2 separate regions of the Homo sapiens genome follow, and region 1 is linked to region 2. Evidence: fine-mapped expression QTL. Tissue or cell type: sigmoid colon. Region 2 holds a variant in brackets; the other region holds the start of a gene. All regions are shown on one strand. Distances are between the middles of the regions.

Region 1 (5,151 bases), 58 kb after region 2:
CCCGCCTTCCCCAGCTCCCTTACTCTTCTCCCTGTCATCATGCCTTCGGTCTGTCCATGCGCTTGCATCACGGTCCTCTCAATCAGAGTGATTTTGCCCCTGCAGGGGACATCTGACAGTGTCTGGAGACATTTTTTTTTCGCTTGTCACAACCCAGAGGGAGGCGCGGTGTGCTACTGGCCTGGTAAATAGAGCCCAGGGTTGCTGCACAACATCCTATAATACATAGAATAGCAGCCCCTCCCACCTCCCAACAAAAAACTATCTGGCCCCAAATGTCACAGTGCCAAGGCTGTGAAACACTGGTCTGGACAGAAACATTTCCAGACCCATGTGTTATATGGAAACATCCCTTAGTCCCTGACACTTCAAAGTTCTGTTCTTGACCCCATGGGCTCCCTAGGGACATCTCCATCAGGAAGATCCTTTGTTCCTGACCCCACCTCCTCTACCCTAATGCTGCCCTCCCAGGACCCTGCCTACACAATTCTGAACCTAAGCCCTGATCTAGACGTCCAAGTTATTTTACCTCTGGACCTGCAACCCTTACTCTGGGGCTCATCCTTTTGCATTTCTACCTATGGATTTTATTCTCCAGGTGTGGGACGCCTGCGGTTATTATGCTAATAATAAAACGATGATCATTGATGTGGCACTTCCTTGTGCCAAGTTCTACTTATGCTCACCATAAACCTGAGGTTGGTTCTGTTATTACTACTGTTTTACAAGTGAACCGAGGAGTGGTGGACTTAAGTAAGCTCTCTCAGTCACACAGCCAGCCAGTGGTGAAACCAGGAGTCAACACCAGACAGCGGGGCGCCACAGTCCATGCTCTTATTTTTCCAAGCTACCTTGGTAGGAAGGGGACACAACCATACTTAGCGTCAGTGGAGGGCTCTGTCCTCCACTCAAATGTACACATGCAGAAAACTGACGACGCAGGTGGTTGGCGGGGGCAGCGCACCACTGCTCAACTGGAGATGGTCAGATGCCCTGGTATGTGGACAAAGATAGCCCAGTCCGAAGCTCAGAGATGCAAAGTCCTCCAGTATTCACCACTACCTCTGCCTCTGTATAGGGTCAAAGAAAAACGACCACCAGCACCATAACCAACACCTAAACACGGTGATTAGTATGTGACAAGCTCTGTGCAGGGTGTTTCAGCTACGTCATCCCATTTAATCTTCCCAATAACACCCAGGCAGGTGCTATTAATATGCTATTTTACCAAGGAGGAAAGTCATGCACAATTAAACAGTTCCACAGATTTCCAGGGCAGCCCATCACATCTTAGAGCTGCTAAGAATTCTTCCCCTGTGGGCCTCCATTTCCATGGTTACAGTGAGATATACACCAGAAAGGCACAGTCACACACTCATAACCGCAAAGCCACTGACGCTAAGTGGCAGACAGACGCCCAGGCAAGTCACACAGTAACCCAAGGCTACAATAAACGCCCACATCAGCCTGACACTGACACACGCACACACTCCAGAAACACAAATCTTCACAGTCAGCGTCACACACCCACTCCCGGCTTCCCAATGGCTCCATTGTTTCCTTCGCGTGGGTCACGCAGCGATACACATCCGCGGTCCCGACATAGCTCCCTCACACACAGGCACACACGGCTCGCCTCACACGCGGCGCCAACTTCACACTTGGGCGCACAAGCCCCGAGAACCACAGCAGCGAAGGGCGCAAACCCCACGCCGTGGCGGGCCGAGAACCCACGCAGGCGCGAGCCCACCGCCCACGCAAGCACCCGCGCAGACGCCCACGCCATCGTGGATGCGCAAACCCACGCGCGCCTTGGCAGGAACGTCCACGCAGTGGCGGGCGCGCCGCCCACGCCCTCAGACACACCCACACTCTCGCCAGCCCCCTTACCTCGGTCTTCCCGGGCTCAGACCCCGGCGGCGACCACCGAGACAGCCGAGCAGGGACTCAGCGCCTGCGCACTCCCCTCCGGGACCCCGGGACCGCGCGCTGCACCCCCCTTCACACACGCACCACGCATGCGGGCGCGTGGCCCCGCCCCCAAACAAGGCCACGCGGCGTGCGCTCACCCGCCTCTCGGGGACAGTACCACCAGCCCCGGCCTGAGGCCCCGACCCCTCAGCGCCACACGCACAAGCGCGTTCGCACGATTGGTGCAGGCGGACGCGCGAGGTCCCGCGCCTGCGCACACCCCCGAGGCTGGCACGCACACCGGTCTCCTAGGGGACTGGCGCCTGGCCCTGCTTTTCATCCTCTCAGGAGATCACGTGTGGACACTGAGGCCCTTCCTCGAGCTCTTTAACCAAACCCAACCTCCCCAATTCGCCGCCTTCCCCGCTCCCACAACCACACGTTCCCGTGTGAGGGCTTATTGCCTCCAGCCAGCCAGCGTCCTTCGCCCCCACATTCACGAGGTTTGGAGCCGGCCTCACCCGCGGAGGCGGACACCGCCCACCCGCGCGTGCGCACTACGCAGTCATCCTGCGACCTCCAGAATCCACCGGGGTGCAGCGAGGCTGTGGAAAGTCCCACCCAGAACGTGAGGTGAAGAAGGCTTGGGCTGCGCTGGTTCTGCTCTGTCCGGGTCGGAGATGAACTGACCCGGGAGAGCAGCGGAGGGATGTTTCTTTTGGCCAACAGTGGGGACTCACCTGCACGTTTTGCGAAGAGGCCCACAGTCCTTTGCGTGGCGCTCGGACTACATTTCCCAACGGCCCCTGCACGCCCTGGGGGCTGTTCCATGCGGTGTTGCGCCTGCGTAGCCGGCGGGCTGGCAGTGAGACTGACTGCGTCGGGGTTGAGACTGGGTGGATGAGGCTCACCCCGGCGGGGAGAAGGGACGAGGAGGGGCGGACAGCGGAAGGTCCGGGAGTGTCCGCCATAAAGTCGTTTGAGGTGACCGTTGCGTAATTGTGAGTCTGTGAGAGAAGATGTGAAGTATGGCCTCGTCCCGGTCATCTGGGCGTGCGGGTCCCGGGTTTTGATCGCGCGTTTGTGTAGGTGAGACCCACATTGTGTTACCCTGAACATGTGTGAGGACGAACCTTTGTGTTTTCTTATACGTGTGTCTCTGAGGCGATTTTTGTGGTTTTGTACGTGGCGGGGGGCACTGATTTTGAATATGTGTGTATGTTCTGGACATTTGTTTAGCTTCTGCATCCACTTCTGCGGAAGGGCAGAGTTGAGTAGGTGGGAACAGGTACTGTGTGGCCCCACAAAGCCTGAACTATTTACTGTTGACTCTAGAGCCCAGTTTTTGCGGTGTGTACGTCTCTGTGGGGAACCACACATTTTGAATATGTATACTTGTGTATATTTACGTCTATTCTATGACTGCTTTTGCACAATGGCAGGGTTCAGTACTTGCAGCAGAGATCTTGTGGCCCATAAAGCCTAAAATACTATCCGACTAAGGTTTCGAGCCGTAGCCAGTTTTTGTGGATGAGTGTTGTGTGTGTGTGGGAAGCCAGTGATTGATTGATTGATTGATTGATTTGGGACGGAGTCTCGCTCTGTCGCCCAGGCTGGAGTGCAGTGGCGCGATCTCGGCTCACTGCAACCTCCGCCTCCAGGTTCAAGCCATTCTTCTGCCTCATCCTCCCTAGTAGCTGGGACTACAGGCGCCCGCCACCACGCCCGGCTAAGTTTTTTGTATTTTTAGTAGATTCGGGGTTTCACCATGTGGGCTCTTGACCTCGTGATCCGCCCGCCTCGGCCTCCCAAAGTGCTGGGATTACAGGCGTGAGCCACCGCGACCGGCCAAGGAAAGCCAGTGTTTTTGACTCTGTGTGTGTGTACCCGCCTGTGTGTTGAGACCCAGTTTTTGTAGTTGCATAGGTGGGTATATGTGTGAGGGGAACCCAGGGCCTGTGATTTCTTTCTTCCCAGGTGACTCTGAGCAAGTTTTGGGGACTAGGTAGTAGGGAGAATGTGTGAGGAACTAGTTTTGGTTTCCCATTTCTGTGATTAGGTAGTAGCAATAATAAAAATAAAAGCTAACAGATACTACTATTAGGACTTTTACCATTACCTCTGTGACTAGCAGCTAGCACTTACTGATTGTTGTCCCTGGTCAAAAGTGAATTTTTCCATTTAAGGTTTTCTTTAATCCTGTAAGCCGTTCTCTGAGTTGTTCCTTGGAGCAAGTTTCTTTCTAGACTGGAGATTGTTCTAAATACCTGGTAATACTAGAATAAGGGGTGTGGTCAAGAGATCCAAGAAATCTTAGGATAAATCTGTCACTTGGCAGTTTCTTTGTTTTCTTTAAACCACCTCCCAAGAAAGTATGTCATCCTTTCTGCTGTTTTAGGGGCATGTTAGTGCGAAAATCTGGGAAAAAGCTTTATGCCTCAGACTGTCCTAGTTCAGAGAAACCAGAGTGTGTGGGTCGGATGTCTTGGCTCCTGATCAGGCTCTGTTGTGCCCATTCTCCGAATAAAGCAACTATCTCCCAAGACACCCATGAGTTTTCTAAGACAGTTTGTCCCAGAGCCCAGGTCCAGAATCTAGTCCTGGTCTTGGATTTGGTCAGACCTTCCCTCACTCTCACCTCAGGACTCCCCACCACTTCCCCCCCTGCCCCAGGAACCCATGGGAATTACAGGCATAAATTAAATACCTGATCCTATGACAGCTCCAGAGTATCTGGAATCTTTTTTTTTTTTTTTTGAGACAGTGTCTTGCTCTGTCGCCCAGGCTGGAGTGCAGTGGCGTGATCTCTGCTCACTGCAAGCTCCGCCTCCTGGGTTCAGGCCATTCTTCTGCCTCAGCCTCCCGAGTAGCTGGGACTGCGAGTGTCCATCACCACACCCAGCTAATTTTTTTGTACTTTTAGTAGACACGGGGTTTCACCTTGTTAGCCATGATGGTTTCACTCTCCTGACTTCGTGATCTGCCCGCTTCAGCCTCCCAAAGTGCTGGGATTACAGGCGTGAGCCACCACGCCCAGCCCAAGATTTAATTTGTTAAAAAAAAAAAAAAAAAAAAAAAAAGTAGGGTAAAGACGCTAGAAAGTCTAGAGAGGAAGGAGGGATTATTTTACACAGGATGGTCAGGGGAGGCCACTTTGATAGGTGGCATTTAGCAGTGAGGCTTCCTGAACTCAGCATGACTGCTCCGCTTGGCTCAGATTCCAGCTCTGTCCACTGTAGT
Region 2 (5,151 bases):
GCTTATATGTATGCCAATTATGGCTTGCCTTTTTGTTTTTCTGCTGCCACCTCTGTTGGAGGCAAAGTTTGCAGTTTTTGTAAAATCCAATTTATTAATTTGTCTTGGTTGGTGCTTCTTATATCTAAGAAATTCTTGCTACTCCCAGGTCACAGAGATATTTTTCTAGGAGTTTTAAGGTTTTAGCATTTATATTTAGCTCTGTGAATGATTTTGAGCTAATTTATGTGTCTTGTGTGAGGTAAAGGTTGAGGTTCATTTTTTTTTCCATATGGATATACAGTTGCCCCAAGACCCTTTGTCAGGAAAGACTTTCCCTTCCTAATTCTATCACCTATCACCTTGCTACTTTTCCTGATCATTACTTGACCACATATGTGTGGGTATGGTTCTGGAATGTCTTCTGTTCCATTGATCTATATGTCTATTGTCTCACCAGTTCCATACTGCCTTGATTACTGTAGCTTTGTAGTAAGTTTTGATACCAGATAGAGCAATTTGTAAAATTGCCTTGACTGTTTTAGATCATTTGCATTTCATATAAATTTTAGAATGAAGTTGAGAATTTCTGCTCAAAAAACTTAGATTTTTGTTGGGATTACATTGATTCTGTATGTCAATTGAAAAAAACTGACCTCTTAACATTGAGTCTTCTAATATAAGTATGGTTTATTAAGCCATTTATTAGTCTTTAAAAATGTCTTGAAGTTGGGTGTAATGGTGTGCGCTGGTAATCTCAGCTACTTGGGGGGCTGATTTGGAAGGATTGCTTGAGTCCAGAACTTGGAGACTAGCCTGGACAACATAGCAAGACTCTGTCTGAAAAAGAAAAAGGAAAAATAATAAAATTTATCTTAAGAATATTTTGCAGTATCCAGTGTAGTGGTACTCTGTTAAATTTTTTTTCCTAAGTCTGTAATAGTTTTTTGAGTGCTATAATAAATAGAATTTTTTTTAACAATTCAGTTTTCTAATAGTTTGCCACTAGTAGGCAGAAATGTAAATTGATTTTTATATTAGCTTTACATCTTATGACCTCGCTAGATTCATTTAATGGTTGCCCTCACAGTTATTTTGTAGGTCCATGAGGATTTTTTGGATGGACAATCATGCTATCTACAAATACAGTTTTTTTTTCCTTCTGATCCTTATACCTTATTTTTCTTGATATATTGCAATGGCTAGGACCTCCTATATAATGTGTAATTGAAGGGGTAAGAGGAAATGTACTTGTGCTGTTTCAATCTTAAGGGAAAACGTATTCTGTCTTTTACTATTAAGTCAGTGTAAGCTGTCAGTTTTTCTTAGATGTCCTTGATCAGTTTGAAAACGTTACTTTCTATTCCTGGTTTGCTGATAATTTTTATAATAAATGGATCAGATACTATTTCTACATCTGTTGAAATGATCATGTGATTTTTTTTCTCTTTAACCTTTTAATATGGTGAATTACATTGATTGATTTTCAAATGTGAAACCAATCTTGCATTTTTGGGATAAACTCTACTTGGTCAAGATCATGCTGTTAATATTTTCCTAGATTTCATTTGCACAGTTTTATTAAAGATTTTGCCTTATGTACATGTGCTACATTGGTCTGCAGGTTTACTTTTTTTTTTTTTTTTTTTGAGATGGAGTCTTGCTCTGTCACCAGGCTGGAGTGCAGTGGCTCAATCTCAGCTCACTGCAACCTCCACCTCCCGGGTTCAAGCGATTCTCCTGCCTCAGCCTCCCGAGTAGCTAGGACTACAGGCATGCGCCACCATGCCCAGCTAATTTTTGTATTTTTTAGTAGAGATGGGGTTTCATGATGTTGGCCAGGATGGTCTCGATTCTTGTCCTCGTGATCCACCTGCCTCGGCCTCCCAAAGTGCTGGGATTACAGGCGTGAGCCACCACGCCCAGCCTGCGGGTTTACTTTCTTATAATTTTTTTATCTGGTTTTGGTATCAAGATAATACTGGCCTTATGAAAACAAGTTGGAAAGTGTTTATCTTTCTCTATTTTCTGACAGTTTGAATAAAATGGTATTATTTCTTCTTTAAATATTTGATAGAATTCACCAATGAAGACA[T/A]CTGGGCCTGAAGTATTTTTTACATAACAGCTTTAATGGATATAGGGTTAATCAGGTTATCTGATTTTTGTTGAATCAGCTTTGGTAGGCTGTGTCTTTCAAGAGATTTCTGTGTTTCATCTGAGTTTTTCAATTTATTAATGTTTTTAAAAAACAGCTGTAGGCTATGTAATGATAACTCCTCTGGTGTTGCTGATATCTGTTCTTTTTTTCTTGATAACTGATGTTTTAAAAGAACCTACTTTTGTTTTATTTCCTCTGTTGTTGTTTTTCTATATTGTTAATTTTCTTTCTTAACTTTTTCTTCTACTTTCCTTAAGTTTACTTTGGTCTTTTCCTCACTTCTTGAGGTGACATCTTAGATTATTGATTTTTAGACTTTTAGTTGTTTTCTAACATAAGCATTTGAAAACTGTAGATTTTTCCTTTAAGTACCATTTTAGCTGTATCCCACAGATTTTGATATGTTGTACTGTCATTATCAACCAAGATATTTTCTAATTTCTCTTGTATACTCTGACCCATGATTTATATAGAAATGTGTTTAGTTCTCAGATGTTTGGAGTTGACTAGGTATTATTGATTTAAAAATCAATAACCTCTAACCTCTGTTGAGGTTAGAGAGCATACTCATCTTGGTTTCGGTACTTTGGGATTTATGGAGACTTGGTTTATGCCCCAGAATATAGTCTATCTTATTTACTGAACACATTGTGTGCACTCGAATACATGTTGTACAAGTGTTTGGTGTAGTGTTGTATAAATATAAATTAGATCAAAGTAGTTAACCCTGTTGAGATCCTCTTTGTTACTATTTTTTCCTAGTTTTGTCAGTTTCTGAGCAAAGCATGTGTTAGTTGCCTATTATGACTATAGGATTACCTATTTCTTACACTTTCAATTTTTGTTTTATGTATTTTGAGGCGTTATATTAGGTGCACAGACATTAAAGATTATTTCTTTCTGATGAATTGATCCTTTTATTACTATACGTCTCTATCTTTGGTAATACTCAGTTTTAAAGTCTATTTTATCTGACGTGAATATAGTTAATCTAGCCTTATGCTTACTGTTTGCATGTTACATCTTTCTTTATCTGTATTATTAATGTATTCTTATATGTAATGTGAGGTTTCTATAAACAGCATATAATTGTGTCTTTCATTTTGTTGATTCCTATAAGTTCTGCCTTTTAACTGAATAAGGAGTTCATTAATATTTAATTATTTATATAATTTGAGTTGAGTCTACTATTGTTTTCTCTTTAATATTTCTCATTAAAAAATATTTGCTCATCTCTATCTTCTTTTGGGATGTTTGAATATTTTTTATAATTCCATTTTATTTTATCTGCTGGCTTGTTGTACCTTTTTATATTATGCTTCCAGTGGGTGCTATAGTGCAATGATGCTCAAAATGTCGTCTTGAGACCAGCAGCACCACCTGTGAATTTATTAGAAACGAAGATTCTCAGCCCTCAACCTCCACTAACTCAATCAAAAACTCTGTGTGTGGGGTATAGCAATCTGTAGTTTAGCAAGTTTTATCTAATTCTGATACACTCTAAAATGTAAGAATCATGCCTGTAACGATTATAATATCTATCCTTAACTTTTCAGTCTAATGAGAATTAGTGTTTTTACTTCCTTATTATAGTTTTATCAACTTAATTCTGGGTTTAATTAGATCATTGCTCCTTGGCAGTCATTTCATATTTCTTTTTTGACCCATCAGTCTTCAGAATTTAATTTTCATGTTGACTTTTTATAGGGCATTCATGGGTGTGATTTGCAACTGTTTAGAGAGGAAAGTGGAATTTGGAAGGGCACTGAGGCAGCACAGCGGAATTAGCAGCCTCAATTTAAGTATGTTGCCTTCAGATTCTTTTCCTTCCAAATATCATTATCCACTGTAATATTTAAGTTTAGTGGTAATATTCCATTTGGTTTCAGACATTTACCCCATTCATGCAAGCATGTCATTCTAATAAGAGGATGAATTAGTGTGGTGTTTTATGTCTTATTGATTCAGTATTTATTCCAAAGATACTAAGCACCTTCTATCTGTCCAGGCTATTTTAGGCAATGGGTGTTCAAGGGTGAGAAAAAAACTTCCTGCACATGAATGTTTACATTCTAATAAGAATAGAGAGTAAGTTAACATGTAATATGATATTAAATAAGTTAAGTGCTATGAAGTGCAAAGCAGGAGGAAAGAGAAACATAAGAGTGTGGAATACTTCATATTGGATGTTCGGCAAAGGCCATACTGAAGAGGTAATATGTGAACAGAACCTCAAGTGAAGAAGTGCAATGAGAGAAGGGATCAAGCAGATATCTGTGGAAAGTGCTTTTCAGGCAGAGAAACAGCAAGTCTGGTGCTCCTAAAGTGGAAATAAAGTGAATTCCCATATGACTGAAGTGGAGTAAGCAAGCAAGGGAGTAGTAGAAGATAAGATCAGAGAACACCAGGTCATGTAGAGTTTCATAAACCAAGGTAGGAATTTTCACTTTATTCTAAATGTAGTAAGAAACAGGAAAATCTTAAGCAGAAAAATGAAGTGATCTGATTTGGAACTGGACAGGGGAAGGCAGACTAAGTTCTGTGCTAGGTTAGTAAGACCAAGCAGTTTGATACAAAACTACTCTTATATGAAGGCATCTTAGCTGCAGGGATCAATTGAAAGTTTACATATGGTTGGAGTTTGTTACATAGAAAATGATTTTCTGGAAGACTTTTTTCTAACTACAGATGTTTACCCATAGAGTTTTATGAACAATATGAACAACCATAAAGTTTTACATGTATCCTAATAAGGATATTAATACTGCCTACTGTTGTTTTTAGGCCTGGGATTCCAATGGAGTTTTTAATCATATTAACATCATAAAACTGGCTTATAAAAGATAACTTAGCTTGAATGCAGGATAACCTATGACAAGAGAGGAAAGGTGTTTGAAGTCTGTTATTAACTTAGATATAAAAAGATGATTATGATTTTTAGAATACCACCTTCATTGTTTTGTTCTTATATTTACCTTACTGGTTGTCAATGATTATTTCCTTAATCAACTCTC

Evidence for each region. PIP is the estimated chance that this variant, and not a neighbour inherited with it, causes the effect.
Region 1: ZNF667 starts here. The variant in region 2 is fine-mapped to the expression of ZNF667 in sigmoid colon (GTEx, PIP above 0.99).

What each region holds. Positions count from the first base shown.
Region 1 is chr19:56,475,382-56,480,532 of GRCh38, forward strand. ZNF667 (zinc finger protein 667) reads right to left here and starts at 1,964. Exons shown (of 7, transcript NM_001321356.2): 1 at 1,891-1,964. It overlaps ZNF667-AS1 (ZNF667 antisense RNA 1), which reads left to right and starts at 2,493. Exons shown (of 2, transcript NR_036521.1): 1 at 2,493-3,000.
Region 2 is chr19:56,417,587-56,422,737 of GRCh38, forward strand. All of the region lies in intron 4 of ZNF583 (zinc finger protein 583), which reads left to right. Among named protein-coding and RNA genes, the nearest start is that of ZNF583, 16 kb to the left of the region's middle. The variant T/A (reference allele first, on the strand shown) is at 2,075.